Linked DNA regions of Homo sapiens. The protein of the gene in region 2 interacts with the protein of the main gene of each other region in a pairwise test. Each region holds a gene or a part of one and is shown on either strand. Other genes may lie near its edges.

The links. Proteins that work in one complex are often made in the same cells at the same time.
Region 1: the proteins of TXK (region 2) and GRB10 interact in binary tests that used the Homo sapiens proteins (3 or more experiments, as listed by UniProt).

Annotation. Positions count from the first base shown.
Region 1 is NC_000007.14:50,615,204-50,618,956, forward strand, and holds part of GRB10 (growth factor receptor-bound protein 10), read right to left. Parts: intron 2,937-3,753; coding exon 2,868-2,936; intron 1,145-2,867; coding exon 1,007-1,144; intron 1-1,006.
Region 2 is NC_000004.12:48,113,622-48,117,374, forward strand, and holds part of TXK (tyrosine-protein kinase TXK), read right to left. Parts: intron 782-3,753; coding exon 727-781; intron 720-726; exon of another isoform or gene 121-719; coding exon of another isoform or gene 41-120; intron 1-40. UniProt on the Homo sapiens protein: Non-receptor tyrosine kinase that plays a redundant role with ITK in regulation of the adaptive immune response. Regulates the development, function and differentiation of conventional T-cells and nonconventional NKT-cells.

The DNA.
Region 1 (3,753 bases), on a different chromosome or scaffold from region 2:
TAAGAGCACAGGGCCTGTCTGCCTTTGGTTTGTTGTGAGTCCAGAGTCCAACCGTACTTTGGGTTTTCCCACTGGTAGCTTGCTTGTCCCACCCTTCTCCTCCTCAACTCTCCAGCCCAGCTCTGTTTCCTGCTCTACGAAATACCCTCCCAACTTCAGCACACACGAGGACAGTGAGCGGGCCACACAGCAGAGCTGGGAGGTCAGGAAGCTACCATGCCCTGTGTCAGTTCAAAGCCCCTCTCTGCAGACGCCCCTTCTCTCTGGCCCAGGTGTCGGCAGCTGCTGACTTCCCAGAGCCGGCCCCAACACCTTCCCAGAGCCGGTTCCCAGATGCTCAACACCTGTGCTGGGGTCCCGCCAGCTCCCTTTCACCTCTGCTGGCCAGAGCAAAAGAGACCACAGCCCTCAGATGGTAAGTGCTCAGCCAGGTATTGGGTGGACAAGGCTCCTGCCACAGGGTATATGTGGACAGCACAAGAAGAGAGCAGACAAGAGTGTACATGGGAGCAAAGGAGCCTCCGGCCTAAGCTCTCTTTTGAGGGCCTGCAGCTGTTTTCCATCTCCCACCTTCTTCTCACTGGGGATACATGCAAGCCTGCAGTTTATTTCATGAAATATCTATGATACATAAAGTTACACTGGCATTAGGGTGGCAATAGTCTATCAAACATCTTTACAGCTAGCTTAAATCCCAACTTATGAGAACTAGGCCAGTCTCTGAAGTGATGGGGCAGCCAGGGGTGTCTGCTCCCAACCCGCAGTGGGGGTGGGGCTAGGCAGGTGGGGTTCTTAGGCCTGTATTATTTATTACCTAGTTTCTGAGCGAGACCAGGAAACCTGTGACTCCAAGTTCAGCTGCTGCACAATTAGCTTATTAAGAAGTTGTCCTGAGCTTGGAGGAGTCTAAGGTGCATTTAAAAATGAAGCCCAGGTTCACTCTGAGGACCTGGGGGGAGTGACTGTGGCAGAATTAGGGCTGGTGGTGGTAGCTTTTAAAGCTCACCTTTGAAGTTCCCTTGGTGGAGCAATAAAGGCCAGATCTCCGCAAACACACATACAGCTTTTTCCATGATTTCTTTCCCAGCTCTTTCACATGCAAAAACCCTTGAATTTCAGGACAACTACTGGAGTTCAGAAAATTCTGTTGAAGAACAAATTTTTAAAATCACATAATGCTAATCTAAAATAATTAAAGCAGACATGTTATCAGCATAGCTGACATTTTCTGAATTATTAAAAGACTCCTTTTTGGATCAAAATGAGAGTGTTCTCCTTTCCAAAGTCTTAAAATCCCATCTCAATTCGTGTTGCATAGAACATAATTCGTATTTAAACATATGCAAGCAAATGGACCTTTCCAACACTGGTGATAACACGAGTCATGAATTTCCCTATAAGATAGTGCACTGAAGGATCCAGTCTGATATCAGACTGAGGGCAAGAGCAAGTGCCATGACCAAGTGATTGGGACTCTGGAGACTGACAGTGAGTATGTAGTGGCCACTTTTACCCAGGCACCCCTCCAGTCAAGGGTCACATAAAAGGTGTCATGTGTCCGCAAGTGATGCACCCAGGTGCAGGACATCCTGGTGATGTCCCCCTGTTCCAGCTAACTCTTCCCACAGGCAGCCTTAAGAATAAAGGCTTTATCAAAACAAAACAAAACAAGAAACTACGCTTTTCATCAAAGGGAAGACAGGCCAAGGGCCAGGTCATGGAGCGAAGTTGGGGAGGTGATGCTGGCAGGTCCTGCTACTAGACTGGGAGGGGACAAAGCTCTTTTCCCCCAGGTGGGAAAGGCACGTCGGACAGAGCCCTGGTGCACCTGGGTCAGTCCTTCTTGAGTCTCAAGAGATCACTGCACATCTTCACAAAGCGCATGGATCCTCTCAAAGTCAAGGCAATTAAAACAGAATCTGCTATTTCACTGTTCACTGTGTATAGGTGGTAACTTAGTGCTGACACCTCTCGCCAGAACAGACACATGCTATGGTCAGAAGGGCTTCTGAAGACACCACCAGAACAGAGCTCTGAAACTCTTATCTTTTAGATGCTGAAACAAATTTGGTGATAACAACGTAGAAAAAGGGCTTATGAGGAGAATTCTGTAGGAACTACATTTTAGTAGTTTCTCTTACATGTAATGTCACCTGGATCTTGTTGGTGGCCTTAGGAAATGGTTTATTCTCTCACTTTTAACATGTACACAGGCACATTTTTAGGGTGTAGCTGTAACATTCCCATTCCCCACTCCCAGCTTCCCCGGAGGAGTGTGTGTGAGAGCTGGGCACAGAGGCCCTGGTGGCTCCCTCCACTGGAAGAGGAGGTGGGGAGAGACCAGGTTTTCTTAGAACAGACTTTATGAATCAGGACAATTAAAGCAGGTTTCTTTATTTGTAATATATGGCAAGTTACTTTTAAAAGTCTGTTGTGGTAACCCGATCATCTTTTACTATAGACTCTGTGCTTCTGCAGAGATTTCCAAGCAGCTAGGCGGTGGCCTGACCTGGGACCCCTGCTCAGAAAGGAGCTGGGGAGGGAGCCCTGAGACTGGGGTTTCTCCATGCACCCCCTGGCCCACACTCAGCAGTGGCATCACTGGACTCTTCTAAGTCAGAGCAAGGGCATCGTGTAAGTGCCTGTTTGGCTTAGAAGGAACCCAGCTACACACAGATTTTCCAAGGAAACTTTTAATTTCTGGTTACTCTAAACCCTCCCCCCAACCACCCCTCCGGCTTAAGAGCCAAGGTTATAAATGGTGAAAGATGCGATCTCTTTAGGTTTTTTACAATGCTGCCATTCAGTTCCAAGAGGATTTCTATTCAGAAAGTCTATTTCAGCAGAGATCTATTGTGGCCCAGTACCTGCAAAAGCTGGGTTTGACTGCCATTTGACTGCTGGCACCAAGTAACCATCTGTTCTGGGAAGAAATTCTAAGAAAATGGGAAAAAACAAATACGTAAAAGGTTAGCTTCAAAGTGAGGGAAGGTATGTCATATAGATATGTCAATTTTAAAACTATTCCTACCAGTATAATTACATACACCTGTATTTAAAATGGCGGTCCTTTTTATTCTCCTATCACACAGAAGAAACACCTCCTTCAAAAGGTTGTATTTTGTTTCCTGAAATGCTGGGTACTAGTGTGGAATACCAACTATGTTTACTAAGGGATTCATGTCTCACAGCATGCTCCATGGCAAAGAGCGATGCCAGCGTCCCAGCCCAGTGGCACAAGTGCACAGCGTGAGATAAAGAATTCCTGAAACTAAAAGGTAAGCCCAGTCACGAGAAAAGCCTGTTCTGCTGCATTCCCCAAAAACAGTCTTCAAATTTCTTACTTTGGAATAAAAAAGCAGCTACATTATCAGAGTCAGAAATGGCCCTGGGTCTTCTCCCCAGTTGATGCAGCTCTGACCCATGACTCAGGATGACAGCGAGTGCCCCAGGAGCTAGGAGGTGCCCTCCCTATCCTGGCCTCTCACAGGACAAGTGCCTCTCCCAAAGAAAGAAAAGAGAGATCAAGGTGACCAGCTCAAGACACCAACCAATCGCACTGATTTCTCTAGTCATTCTTCCACGTATGATCACAAAATATATTTGCTATTTGCAGAGAATAATGAGTTTTTCTTCTGCTAAGTGTTTGATCAGTTCAACTGAGAACTTTCAAAATAACAGAAAACACCCAGCCTCTCCCAGCTCCTGTCTTAGAGACTAACCCCCTTTACACTGTGTCTATGTGAAGAAGGA
Region 2 (3,753 bases):
TCCATATCTGGCTCAGTGTTTGTCATTTTATATGCATTACCTCATTTGATGGTGTCTTTTTGTTATAAATAGACATGGTATAGTGATTAGGAACAAGAGTTTGAATCCCAGCTCCACCATTTCATAGTGTGGCCTTGGGTAAGCAATGTAACCTCTCTAATCTTCAATTTCCTCATCTGTAAAATGGGGATCATAAAAAAAAAAAGTAGGTGGTTTTGAGAACTGTATGAGTTAATAAACATAAATCTTTTAGCATAGTATCTGATATACAGGAAGCTCCTGTTAAATGTTAGCTTTTTCTGTTAACATGCTGCCTTGGATTTAATTCTTACAGAGTCATTTACTGCCACCAAAGTATAAGATACACCGGTAGTTTTGGGGAGATAGATAACTAAGATAGGATTCTTGCCCTTAAAGGGAAAAAATACGTATTGGAGCACAGACCTATAAACAACATACATGAAATAAAAATTAAGTGGAGAACAATGCCGCACACGGTGGGAATGCAATGGAATGAACAATGAAATCTAAAGGATCAGGAAAGGATCCCAGATGACCTGACATTTGACCTAGACCTGTAAACAAATAGGCATTCCACAGGGAGAAAATGGGAGAAGGTTCCCAGGTAGAGAGAACAGCGGGTGCAAAGAGACATGGTGACTCCACAGGTAATAAAGAAACGGAATTAATTAATTTTCAAGAAATTGCCCTCGGAAGTAGACTTACCGCTTCTGCACTGAACAGCAACAGCAGCAACAGAAAACCGACTGGATGGTGTTATCTGAAAAGCAGATCATTTCTCAGCTGTTAGAAAGCCATGAGTACGTGATATTGAGGGAGTCTCTAAGGGAAGGGTGAGACGAATTATTATAAAGCGTATGAAAGTCTCGATCGTGCCTTCCTTCACTAGTGGAAGACAAATAACTGTCACTAAAGCAAAAAATAAGTTTCTGGCACCTTGGCCAGTGTGGTTTCCCTTCTCAGGCTCTTCTCCTCTGGCCTGGTTTTTGCATTTCCTCAGTCTGTGAGTGATAAATGACCAGTGTATTCTCTTTTACCTTTGTCAGGGCTAATGTTCGCTAACAAATATACAAGAGAATAGGATTCCAGAAGTGATGCTCTCCTAGGAAATCTGTTAGCAGGGATTTTGAATTAGATCTGTCATATTTTTTTAAATTGAAATGTTTAAAACATAGGCTCTTTTTAAAAATTCCATCAACATTTCAGTGGGATTTTTATTCTTTTACGTATTTATTGTAATTAAAAATTGTTCTAAACCTTAGCTGCATGTTAGAATTATCTGAGGAGCTTTAAAAAAAATATTCTGGTGTACAGGTCATACCCTGCATACCCCAGACCAAAAAAATTAGACTGTCTGGGGAGGAATCTAGGTATTGGTATTTCTTTCTTTCTTTTTTTTTTTAATTTTACTTTAAGTTCTGGGATACATGTGCAGAACAAGCAGGTTTGTTACATAGATATATATGTGCCATGGTAGTTTGCTGCACCTATCAAACCATCATCTAGATTTTAAGCCCCGCATGCATTAGGTATTTGTCCTAATGCTCTCCCTCCCCTTGCCCTCCACCCCACAACAGGCCCTGGTGTGTGATGTTCCCCTCTCTGTGTCCATATATTCTCATTGTTCAACTCCCACTTATGAGTGAGAATATGCAGTGTTGGGCTTTCTGTTCCTGTGTTAGTTTGCTGAGAATGATGGCTTCCAGCTTCATCCATGTCCCTGCAAAGGACATGAACTCATTCGTTTTTATGGCTGCATAGTATTCCATAAAACATAGGCTCTTACTATGGAATAAGCTTAAAGATAAACTGAATATTTGAAGAAAGAACTAGCTAGTAAGTCTAGGTTATGCCTAGACTTTCATTGTCAAGCTTCATCTTTATTGAAGTGAGATGATTTTCCTTTTTAAAGACCATAAATAAGCCAAGGGTGGTGGCTCATGCCGCTAATCCCAGCACCTTGGGAGGCCGAAGCAGGCAGATCGCTTGAGCCCAGGAGTTCGAGATCAGCCTGGGCAACATGGCAGAACCCCATGTCTACCCCAAAAAACTTTTTAAAAAAATTAGCCAGGCATGGTGGTGCATGCCTGTAGTCTTCAATACTCAGGAGGCTGAGGTGGGAGGATCCCTTGAGCCTGGGAGATGGAGGCTGCAGTGAGCTGAGATTGCACCACTGCACTCCAGCCCTGGTGACAGAGTGAGACTCTGTCAAAAAAAAAACATAAATAAATTTTGAATTTCAAAAGGATATTTTATTTTCATAGAACCTACATTTCCCCATCAGCTCATACTCATATTGACATCCGAAAATATTCTGGAGGCAGCAGAGTACCTTAGAGGTGAGCATTCACTTTGAGGGGAGACAGACCTGGGGTTTAGCCCTAGTCACCTGGCTGACTACATCTTGGATAAGTCCCTTTACTTCTCTAAGTCTTAGTTTTTCTAACTGTAAAACTGAGGTAAATAGTATGTACTCCCTTTGAGAAGCCCTATAAATGTCTAACTTTGTGACTTTGAGTAAACTAGTAAATGTTCTGTGCTTTAGTTTCCTCGTCTGTAAAATGGGAATAATAGGATGCCTAACATGTAAGCCAACGGTGAGGACTAATTGAGTCGATTCATGTAAAACTCCTAGACCAATACCAGGTATACAGTAAGAGGGTAATCAAGAAGGCTGATTATAATAGGATCGTGGTGAAGAATCAATCAGATAACATCTTTTAAAGTCCCTGGATCATAAAGGTAAGTATTATCAGTCAGGATCCCAACAAGAATCAGAAGGCACACTCAAACTGGGATATGTTGAGAAGGATTTATTTATAAAAGGAAGTATAGAGATGTAGGCAGAGTGTAGTAAAACTACAAGGATAGTGCAGGAATCCAGAGCTGAGCCATCACCACACCTAACCAAGTGAGGAGGGAAGGGAAGGTTACCAGAACCTAGAAGGAGAGGGTATCTGTGGCCCAGGCCACCTGGAAAAGAGCATGTATCATCCATCCAAGGACACAGACTGCCCAAGGAGACTTCACAGCAAGAAAATCAGGAGGATAAATATCCTTACTCCACTGTCCTCCCTCCCTCCTTGCTGGGCTCTCCATTGGCCTAACCCAGCAGGAAGCCAGATGGTTGTATGTAAATCACACAGCAGCAAACAGCAGGCTGGTGAAAGGCAGAGAGTGGACCGGCAGGGAGAGAGGCAGACAGGAAACATCCAGCACAGTCCACCCCTCAGCATCCATTTTTTGTTTCTTTTTTTTCAGACAGAGTCTCACTGCGTCGGCCAGGCTGGAGTGCAGTGGTGCTATCTTGGTTCACTGCAACCTCCTCTACCTCCCAGGTTCAAGTGATTCTCCTGCCTCAGCCTCCTGAGTAGCTGGGATTACAGGCATGTGCCACCACACCCAGCTAATTTTTTGTAGTTTTTAGTAGAGATGGGATTTCACCATGTTGGCCAGCCTAGTCTCGGACTCCTGACCTCAAGTCATCCGCCCAACCTGGCCTCCCAAAGTGCTGGGATTACAGTTATGAGTCACCGCGCTCGGCCCATCCTAAAGTGGAAATCATATATGCCCTCTTCCATTATCCATTCCATTTCCCCTTTGCCACTGCCAACACCTTGGCTGGAGGAGGTGCCCAAATATCCATTCCTGTAGGATTTGGGTTTTTGTTTAGTCTTGTCTTTGTAGGGTTGCTACAGTTTTCCATTGACCAGGACTATTAAGAATATTAAG